3 linked regions of the Homo sapiens genome follow. The protein of the gene in region 1 interacts with the protein of each later gene in a pairwise test. Each region holds a gene or a part of one and is shown in the gene's direction. Other genes may lie near its edges.

Evidence for each region.
Region 2: the proteins of BASP1 (region 1) and SERPINB5 interact in a two-hybrid assay, tested with the Homo sapiens proteins (one large-scale study listed by BioGRID).
Region 3: the proteins of BASP1 (region 1) and AGTR1 interact in a two-hybrid assay, tested with the Homo sapiens proteins (one large-scale study listed by BioGRID and IntAct).

What each region holds. Positions count from the first base shown.
Region 1 is NC_000005.10:17,269,495-17,273,151, forward strand, and holds part of BASP1 (brain acid soluble protein 1), read left to right. Parts: intron 1-3,657.
Region 2 is NC_000018.10:63,497,348-63,501,004, forward strand, and holds part of SERPINB5 (serpin B5), read left to right. Parts: exon of another isoform or gene 1-156; intron 157-1,772; coding exon 1,773-1,940; intron 1,941-3,657. UniProt on the Homo sapiens protein: Tumor suppressor. It blocks the growth, invasion, and metastatic properties of mammary tumors.
Region 3 is NC_000003.12:148,700,867-148,704,523, forward strand, and holds part of AGTR1 (type-1 angiotensin II receptor), read left to right. Parts: intron 1-3,657. UniProt on the Homo sapiens protein: Receptor for angiotensin II, a vasoconstricting peptide, which acts as a key regulator of blood pressure and sodium retention by the kidney.

The sequences.
Region 1 (3,657 bases):
CAGGTTGCTCTGATCAACTCACAGTGCTCGAATGGCACACTCTCTTCTCTCTTCACCGAAAAGCAGAACTTTATCACATTTCTTCCAGAATAGCTGTTTCTAGCCAGGTGGGATTAATTGGATGGAGGCTTGGTTTTATAAGGTGGAAGGGAATAAAACTAGTCACAAGATAGTTGTGGGGGATTTTAAAGATGTAAGTTAGTATCTCTATTAAGCTATTTGACATATGATAAACAAACAGTATTCTTCTGCAGGAAGTAGCAAAACAAAATGACATTTGACAATGTTAGCTTCTCTCATTAACATGGTGTGTTTAGCTTATTAGCCAAGATAAGCTGTAGACCAGGTTTTTACCCTTTACACGTGAAATTTGAGGCATTAAATGAGTAAAAGAATTGGGATTCCTTTTCCATCTTGGTGATCAAAACACTTTTCTCTTGTTTCCTTGGACCAAGTGATGAAGAGGTGGTGAGGGGACAGCAAAAAATGCAATTACATTTCTTCTCTTTATTTTTATTTTTTGAGACAAGAGTTTTGCTCTTGTTGCCCAGGGTGGAGTGCAATTGTGCGATCTCGGCTCACCGCAACCTCCACTTCCCAGGTTCAAGCGATTCTCCTGCCTCAGCCTCCTGAGTAGCTGGGATTACAGGCATGCACCACCACATCTGGCTAATTTTGTATTTTTAGTAGAGACGGGGTTTCTCCATGTTGGTCAGGCTGGTCTTCAACTCTTGACCTCAGATGATCTGCCCGCCTCGGCCTCCCAAAGTGCTAGGATTACAGGTGTGAGCCACCACACACAGCCCCCTCTTCTCTTTCTCTGATCACTCCAATACTCGTTCTAATTGGGAGGAATGGATTTAACTAATCTTTGGTTTTTATCTCTGTGTAGAAACTGATTTCTTGGCAGAATGGACTGTTAATATATTTAAAAAGACTGAAAACCTCTTAGAATCTTAAGTAGTAAAATATTCAGAGCGAAGAAGTAGAGATTTTACCTTTACAATATGGTGACAACAGATAACTGTAAAAACTTCTTTTTCAAATAGAACCAGCAGGAGCATGCATGGAACACATATACCAAACATCTTTCTGATAACATTAAACATTTTTAAAAGATGTTAAATGTTCTTTTCATTGTGGTGCTTCAGATTCCTGATTCTAGAACTTGTGTGTGTGGAACCTGTGTGCTAACTATTCTGTTGGAATTTACCAGCAAAGAATTATCTAAGAATTTTCAAACTAAATGATGGGGGAAGGAACTAACATTTTTGCAGTCCCTGGAAATGTAAAATGTTGTACTCACATGGCCTCACATTAAATTCCCATTAAATTGACATTTAAAAAAATTTTTTTATTTTAAAGGAAACGGAAGGACGATGAGATTAAATAACTTGCCCAAGGATTCTGGGTGGGTGTGCTGTGGAGGTGGGATTTTTATACTCTGCCATGACCCAATGTGCAAAGTCTCCTTGAAATTCAATTCTTGTCCAATATTTACCAGATTAAACTCAGTGAAATTCCTCTCTCTACTACTGTTTATGGTTATTTTCTATGCCAATATTAATCGGTAAGCCTGTCATTTTCGCCCTTGTGGCATCGAGTTTTCTTTGAAGGACAGCTTTTTTGTTTGCTTTTTGTTTTTTGTTTTGCTTTGTTTTGTTTTGAGGCAGGGTCTCACTCTGCCCAGGCCATAGTGCAGTGGCTGATCTCGGCTCACTGCAACCTCTGCCTCCCAGGCTCAAGCCTCCCCAGTAGCTGGGATGATAGGTGTGCACCACCACGCCTGGCTAATTTTTGTAATTTTTGTAGAGACGGGGTTTTGCCATGTTGGCCAGGTTGATCTTGAACTCCTGACCTCAAGTGATCCACCCACCTCGGCCTCCCAAAGTGCTGGGATTACAGGTGTGAGCCACCACACCCGGTCTTTAAAGGACAGCTCCAGAATTAGCTTTTTTCTGAGATGTCATAACAGAGGTCAGTTTTAGTGTTTGGTTAATACATAAACACATAGAACTGAGGTCAGTGCCTTCAGCATTGGTCTGAATTTTGTTGCTGTGCTACAAAATTCTAGTGAATTTCCTAGTTGTGGAGAAATGCAAAGTCAGTCTCGGCCTTTTCAGTAGAGCTTTGGTTTAGTGACTTTTTTAGTTGAAGTGACTTTTCAGCATGGATTGTCTATTGCTGTATTTTTTTAACTGCTTTATTTTAATCTTAGAAGTTCCAACTTCTAACTTTCTATACCAAATGATGTCTTTCAAAATTAGAAGTAACAGAAATGAATGAAATCGGCTGGGCATGGTGGCTCACGCCTGTAATCCCAGCATTTCGGGAGGCCGAAGTGGGCAGATCACCTGAGGTCAGGAGTTCAAGACCAGCCTGGCCAACATGGTGAAACCTCATCTGTGCTAAAAATACTAAAATTAGCTGGGCATGGTGGCAGGCTCCTGTAATCTCAGCTACTCGGGAGGCTGGGCAGGAGAATTGCTTGAACCTGGGAGGCGGAGGTTGCAGTGAGCCGAGATTGTGCTGCTGCTGCACTCCAGCCTAGGTGACAGACTGAGACTGCATTTCAAGAAAAAAAAAAAAAAAAAGAAAGAAAAGAAAAAGAATGAAATCATTAAACTGTATGCTCATTGCTTTCTCTTGGTAAAAAGCTTCTCTGGCAAATAGGAAGATGAAATGTTGAGAGGCAGAGGATACTCAAAATACTGAATTTCTTCCTTATTCCCTCAACACCTGAGTTCTGAACTACCCCAGGTGGCACCATCCTTGTAACCCAGGCGCATAACATTCCTGGGCTGAGAGCTTTGCCCCATTGCCGGCTTCTCAGTGGAGTTCCTTCTATCCCCTCTGTGGTGCCTTCCTGCCTTACTGAATTTTGCTGGACTTGGCCTTTGCTCATAGTACAGCTCCACGAACTCAGCTAGTAGGATTTCCTTATGGGTAAAAGGAGAATGTGAATGGCATACTACCCCATGGTGCTGTTGAGATTACATATTTTATGTAATATATTTATGAGTAGGATTGTGCTTGATACCTAGGAAACAGTTAATAGATGTTGTAGGCAAGGTCTTCACGCATATGGTCTTGGGAAATAATGAGACAATCCTGCTTTTCGAGGGTTCAGGTGGGTCCTATGAGCGTCCCTCTGATACCTCAATATAACCAGTAGAGGTAAATTAGCAAAATGCCAGGGGCGTTTGTTAACTTTGTTTGAAAAACAAACTGGATTGAGACATATTTTCTTACTTATAACTTGATTACGTGTGTTCATTTTCGACCCAGAAACAAATCGCAGCTGGGCATAAAACAAAGAATAGAATGTGGCCTTAACTATGTGTCAGAAAAGCCAGTTTTAGTAACTCAGATTTTAGGTTTGTAACCCAACATGACTTTAAACCTCTGGGGATTGCTGTATAGAATTTCATGCTGTGGGTGTCAGAAAGCAGCACCCCATGTTATACTTACTGGACCCCCTATGTTTGCACTTTATCTTAGTGTCTGTAATTTCTAAGTTGGTGTATGGGTTTCTATTACTGGATTGAGAGAAGATCCTAAAGGCAGACCTGTTAGGTTTCCTGTTTCTTATTTAGCTCAACCTAAGGGACCCAATGTATTTTGAAATATCAGAGCTGAAATTATATTTGGTATAGG
Region 2 (3,657 bases), on another chromosome or scaffold:
CCATGGGGCTCTTCTGTTTGATGGTCGCCTTCCTTATCCTCTTCGCCATGTGAAGCTCTGTGGGGGTCACCTGCCTGTCCCTGCTGCTGCGGCTGCACACCATTCTTGGTGCTGGGCTGTGCTAAGCTTTACCATTGAACACAACGTTTCTGAAAAAAAAAAAAAAAGAGCCAAGCATACAGTGGAGCTCAAAGGGACTTAGAGATAATTTTAAAAAGACTTAGAGATAATTTTAAAGAACATTTTCCTTTTTAAAAATTATGCAATACTCCAAGCATTCAGAAAATGATAGAGAATAATAAAACGAACACCCATATACCGATCAATCATCTTTTTGAACTTAATATTTTGCCTTAATTATTTCAGATATTTTAAAGAAAAAATATAACAACAGTTGCATTGCTTTGTATGTATCCCTTCACTGCTCACTCCACTGTCCTGTTCCTCTTTCTTCCTCCCCAGTGGTAACCATTATTCTGAATTTACAATTTCTTCATTCTACTGACAAGAATACTGAGGCCTGGAGAGATTGAGTGATTTGCTCAAGGCCACAGAATCTGTTTATGTCACATTTGGGACTAAAAACCAAGGTTCTTATCTTCAATTTAGACTTTGTTAATTAGCTCAGATCTGAGTAGGTGGCAGTACAGTGGGGAGTGGGCAATTCAAACCAAAGACAAACAGAGAGGTCACAACAAATATTGTTTTGTTCTGCTATGTGCTAAGTTTGTTGTTGTTATTGTTCTGTTTTGTTTTGAGATGGAGTCTCGCTCTGTTGCCCAGGCTGGAGTGAGTGCAGTGGTATGATCTTGGCTCACACCAACTTCTGGCTCCCAGGCTCAAGCAATTCTCCTCCCTCAGTTTCCCAAGAAGCTGAGATTACAGGCGTGTGCCACCATGCCTGGCTGACTTTTGTATTTTTTAGTAGAGACAAGGTTTCACCATGTTGGCCAGGCTGGTCTTGAACTCCTGACCTCAAGTGGTCTCCCAAGGTGCAGGATTACAGGCATGAGGCACCGTGCCCAGCCAGTTTTTGAAATTAGGCATTTTATTAGGAAAAGCCGTATAAATGGTTATGTGGGTTTGCAGTAGAATTTACTTTCAAGTCAGCTCCACCAGGAATAGTTTAAAGATCTCATAGGCATCTGTAAAGAATAACAAACGTTGCCTATATTTACAGCCATACAGTCTTATTTTTAAGGTTTGATCTATGCAAATACAGTATTATATATACTTCATGTAATGTGTAACATGTAGATTATAAAGTATATGAATAACTTTTCAAAGGAACACAAACTCTTCACAGGACAGTCTCTGGTTTCAGTGCAATACAGTTTGGATCTGAGTGGATGATGAATTATAAGCCATAATAATCTGACACTGTGTCAAGAGCAAATTTGTGTATATATATATATGTACATATATATTTATGTGTTTGCCTATATATGTGTATATATGTGCATGTGTGTATATATGTATGGGGTATATATATATAGTATGTATATATAAGTGTGTATATATAGGTGTGTGTATATGTATATGTATGTATATGTATGTATGCATATATATGTATATGTGTATATATAGGTGTATGTATATATGTATGTGTATCTGTATATATATAGGTGTAGGTATATATGTATGTGTGTCTGTATATATACATGTGGGTATATATGTGTGTGTGTGTGCGCGCGTGTGTGTATATATATATATATATATATTTATGCATGTGTAAATTGAAAAGTAAGCAGTCCAAATTTTCCCTTTTACAGACAGACACCAAACCAGTGCAGATGATGAACATGGAGGCCACGTTCTGTATGGGAAACATTGACAGTATCAATTGTAAGATCATAGAGCTTCCTTTTCAAAATAAGCATCTCAGCATGTTCATCCTACTACCCAAGGATGTGGAGGATGAGTCCACAGGCTTGGAGAAGGTAAGGAGAAGGCAGGTGCTCTCCACAAAGGCACCCCCTGCCTTGGCAAAGAGTTGTGCCAACAGGTCTGTGTGGGCCGTGAGAGCTGGGCCGGTAGCCCTCCCTTATTGCCACTGGCTCAGTCACCTCCAAGGACCCATGGTTCTTTCTGGGGCCTTTCCTCCTTAATATTAACAACAGCCAAAATTTATTTGGCACTTACAGTGTTCTAGGGACTGTGCTAAGTTGCCTACGTGCATTATCTCATTTAATTCTTACAGCAGGCTGATGAGTTAGAGACTGTTACCACACTCTTGTTTACCAGTGAGGGAGCTGAGGCACAGAGGGGTGGGTAACTGGTTACATAATTAGTCAAGGGTGTGTGCAGGATCAGGATTTGGGCCCAGGTAGTTGGAGCCAGGTTCTTAACTGAAGGCTAGAGTGTCTCCCTCACCTCCTAGGCAGTTAAGGCACTACGTTGCTACGCACTGCCAGGTCCACTATCATGTGACCTGATGTCAAGCATCCTCTCTCTTGCTCTTTCTTTTTTTTTAAAATTAGTAGATGTTATTTTTAGAGTAGATCTATGCCTACAGAAAAATAAGCAGAAAGTACAAGGAGTTCCCATATACTCCCCTTCCCGTCCCAGGCCTACAGTTTCACCTGTTATTAGCATCTTGCATTAGTTTGGTATGTTTGTTACAATTGATGAGCCAATACTGACATATTACTATTATTATTATTATTATTATTATTATTGTTTTAGAGACAGGGTCTTGCTCCATTGCCCAGGCTGGAGTGCAGTGGCATGATGGTAGCTCACTCTAACCTCAAACTCCTGGGCAGGCTGGAGTGCAGTGGCATGATGGTAGCTCACTCTAACCTCAAACTCCTGGGCTCAAGTGATCCTCCTGCCTCAGCCTCCCAAGTAGCTGGGACTAAAGGCACACAGCACTATGCCTGGCTTTTTTTTTTTTTGTAAAGGTGGGATCTCACTGTGTTGTCCAGGCTGGTCTTGAAATCCTGGCCTCAAGCAATCCTCAGCCTCAGCCTCCTGAAGTGCTAGGATTATAGGCATGAGCCACCACACCTGGCCTTCACAATTTACGTTACGGTTCACTCTTTGTGTTGTACATTTATGAGATTTTAATACGTACACATATATGCTTCAAAATTTTGAATTATGCAGATACTATTTTATAGTACACATTATATATAAGTATTTTATTTTATATGATAAGGGTTATTATATTATTTTATTTATATAGATTTTTAAGGCACAAAGTTTAAATAAGAGTAGCAGTTTTCTCTGCAGGTGAATGGAGTTTTAGCTTCCTCTCTGCTCCCTCACCTCTGCTTAGCTGGCTGAGGCCTGTTCTCCCTTTAGTCCCTCCCTGGCTTCCATTCTAGCTCCACCCCGCCTGGCCTCAACCCTTGGCCAGGAAGGAAGAAGGGGCTCTTTGAAGGCCTGGATCACTTGCTATATATCCACATGGGCCTCAGTGATTTGCTGACTTTCCAGGGGACCATCCAGTCTCCAGCTTGCTCCTTTGGTTGCCATTATGTTTTAGCCACCACTTTATTAACTGAATTATAATTCCTGTCCTTCTTCTTCTTTGGTGCATTACTCTCTCTGTTTTTTTTCTTTCCATTTTATGCTTTGATCTTTCAGCCATTATCCAGCTGTCTTGGATTTTACCTTTCGTTCTTAAAACGCCCTCCAATAAACATCAATTAT
Region 3 (3,657 bases), on another chromosome or scaffold:
AAAATTGCCTAAGATCATTGGATTATGTGGTTTGTGTTTCTTTTCACTGTAGCTGCTTGTTAAAGCAGTATACTCAATCTCTGATAAGCAACAGTAAATTTGATCGATTTGTATCCTAAATTTAGCTATCACTTTACATTTTGTTTTATTCATAATATGAACTTTAGCTTCTAAAAATCAACTTTTTAATAGCTTAATATATAAAGCCATCTTAAATCAAGGAATATCTATAGGGACTTAAGGTAATATTCAACTAAATTGGCAAGTGACTACCATTATCCTATTAAAGCTCTAAAATGCAATATTTCAATCACAGAAAAAAAATCTTATAATTTAAAGAACTATAAATTGCCAGATGTTTCCCTAGTTATTACGTTAGTGACAAATTAGACAACTGGAAATAGAAAACAGAGTATATGTTTGGAACAGTCATAAAAGGACTAGTGACTATTGCTGCTAGCTGTGGTTGTATTAACATTAAAATATTTGCTATGGGATTTTTCTTCTTATCAAAGCAGATGCTCAGATGAGGAAAAACTTTCTTGCATATGAAAATCAAAATTGTCTTCCAAAATATTTAAGTAACAAAAAATTCATTATGTAGTATAAATGCTGTATGATTACATTATTCTTATAGTTAATTTAGAAGGGTTTGAATTTGTTTTTGTTTTGTTTGTGTTTGTTTCTTCGATAGGTGCATTCTCTAACTGTCTTAAGTAGAAACAAATGTCTAGAATCTCTCAGTGATTATCAGTCTCCTTCCTATTACCAAGAATGTTTTTATTGTGTTGTTAATCTCACATGTAATTTTTTTAACATTTAAAAGTTTGGAAAATGGGTAAAAAATGAGTGTGCCTTGTTTCCTATTATTACAATGTGCCTTCCTATTTCAAGTCCCAATTCTAGATTTCCTTAAAACTTAAAATCATAGAATTAATAATCTTTCAGTTTAAGTCAACTTTTGTGTGATTTCTTGTCCACTTATACACACATAGATGCCTTCATCTTCACCAAATAATGTAGAAATTTTATTTAGTTCAATGGATTTAAGTACTCTGTATGCTTAAGTACAAAATAAGAATATTGAGAAATACACATATGATTGTGTACCTTTTTTTTTTTTTTTTTTGAGACAGAGTCTTGCTCTGTTGCCCAGGCTGGCGTGCAGTGGCATGATCTCGGCTCACTGCAACCTCTGCCTCCCAGGTTCAAATGATTTTCCTGCCTCAGCCTCCTTAGTAGCTGGGATTACAGGTGCATGCCGCCACGCCCAGCTAATTTTTGTATTTTTAGTAGAGAAGAGGTTCGCCATGTTGGCCAGGCTGGTCTCAAACTTCTGACCTCAAGTGATCTCCCTGCCTCGGCCTCCCAAAGTGCTGGGATTACAGACATGAGCCACCTCACCTGGCCTGATTTTGTACTTTTAAAGAGAATTTGTTGTTGCTAATTTGCTAAGTTTATTTAGATATTTTCTGATTCTATATTAGTCAAAGCTCCTCTTATCTACTTTGGAAAATGAAGAATTATGTCTATAAAATATATCAACAACAGCTGCAGGTACTTACAGAGGAAATACTGTGGATCTGAGTGATATTAGGCCCTGAGGATACAAGCCAAAGTATAAAAATGGTCTTTGCCGTAGAGAGATAGTAGTCAAGCTAAGCACATATTTTGGCATGGGTCTCTAATAGCCTAATGCTAGTAGGGTGGGAAGCCATTTAAAAATGGCCCCTCCTTCTGTCCTGCCTTTCAGACCAGATGGTGTGTCTAAAGTGGTCACACTGTTTGGTTCTGGCCACTTCTGTAATAACCACTGCTCCTTTCCCCTCCTCGTGAGATTATAACTCCTTTGACAGTATGGATGGCACCTAACGCATCCTTGTTTTCTTTTACTAAATGTTCCACGGAGTCACTTGCTTGCCTGTTTGTTGCTTATTTGTTTGTTTTTGGCTAAAACTACAGAAAATGTTAAATACATTTTCAGACCTTTATATTTTAAAAAAGAAATGTTAAGAAATAAATAATTTTTCTAATCTCATTTAGATACACTGTCCTATTACACACAATGACAAATTTGATGCTTTTGTCTTGCTAATTGAAGAGCTAAGCATGAATACAGTTTTTCAGTCTACAGCAGCAATGACAAGGGTAAAGTGGAGAAAAGAGTAAGGAAAGAAAAAATTAAAAAGAATAAAAGGTTGAAATATCAAATCGGTGGTTCTTAAGATGACAGAGGCAGGTGAGACAAGAATACTGGAATCACCCAGGGGGCATATGAAATCTGTACATTTCATCCACACCTTCTTTTCTCCCCCTGTCCTCATTCCCCCTGTTGAGACACATTGTATTACAAATTAGGAGGAAACCATCTAAAATTATCTCACGTATCCCAGTTCCCATATTAGCATCATGAGTATCACCTGAGAGTTTGTTGGAACTGCAGAATCTCAGACCCTGTCCAGACCCATTGATTGCATAAGAATCTGCATTTTAGCAAAATCCTCAGGTGATTCAAATGCACATTAAGGGAAAAGAAACACAGTGTACCGTACCTGTGGCTTGTTTAGAATAATTATGAAGAGGTGTTTTCTTGGCTCTTAACTAACGTTTTTAATAAAGCTAATATTTATTGAGTACATAAATGTGCCAAACACAACGTTCAGTCTTTCTTTAAATTTTTTTTATTTAATCCTCACAACAACCCTGTGAGATAGTTTCTGTTTTATCCTTATTTTATAGATTGGGATACCAAGTAATAATGAGATAAGTAGTTTACCCAAAAGCTGTAACTGATACAGTCGAGATGTAAACATAAGAATTCTAATTTCATTGCCTGTTCTCTTAGCTGTTACCTACAGTGTCTGCTCTATACTGGGCTACCTACTTTTTAAGGCCAACTAATTATTTGAAAATTTATTTAAAGTTTTAATTTGAGATCAAAATCTGTTTCCCTCATAAATTTTTTTTAAAAAAAGCAAACAAGATCTATTCCATTTTGATCTAATGTTTTCCTGTCACCTTACCTTTAAGTGCAATAATGGGAAATTCTAGAAATTCCTTCTTTAACTGTTTGAAAAAATACCAAAACTATGACAGCCTGTCCAAATCCACTAAAATATATTTTTATATGCATGCTTTTTGTATATCAATTATACTTCAATAAAGCTTTTTAAAAAAATAGTAGATGACATACTTTTAAAAATTAACTTTGGAGCCCAGGTATGGTGGCTCAGACCTGTAATCCCAGCACTTTGGGAGGATCACTTGAGGCCAGGAGTTTGAGACCAGCTGAGGCAACAAACTGAGACCCCCATCTCTACAAAAAATAAAAAATTGCCAGAGCATGGTGGCGCACACCATGTAGTAGTTGGGACCTGTAGTCCCAACTACTCAGGAGACTGAGTTGGGAGGATTGCTTGAGTCTGGGAGGTGAAGGCTGCAGTGAGCCATGATCACACCACTGCACTCCAGCCTGAGCAACAGAGAAAGACCCTGTCTCGAATAATAATAATAATAATAACAACTTTTGATATCTCTATTTTTTCCCATAAAAATCCAAAATTTTCTGTTTACTTTTTGGTGCTCTCATGCTATAAAGTAAATTCTCCCTTGGATTGGACAAGTTATTTTCTGTTTTCTACATACACATAGACTGTT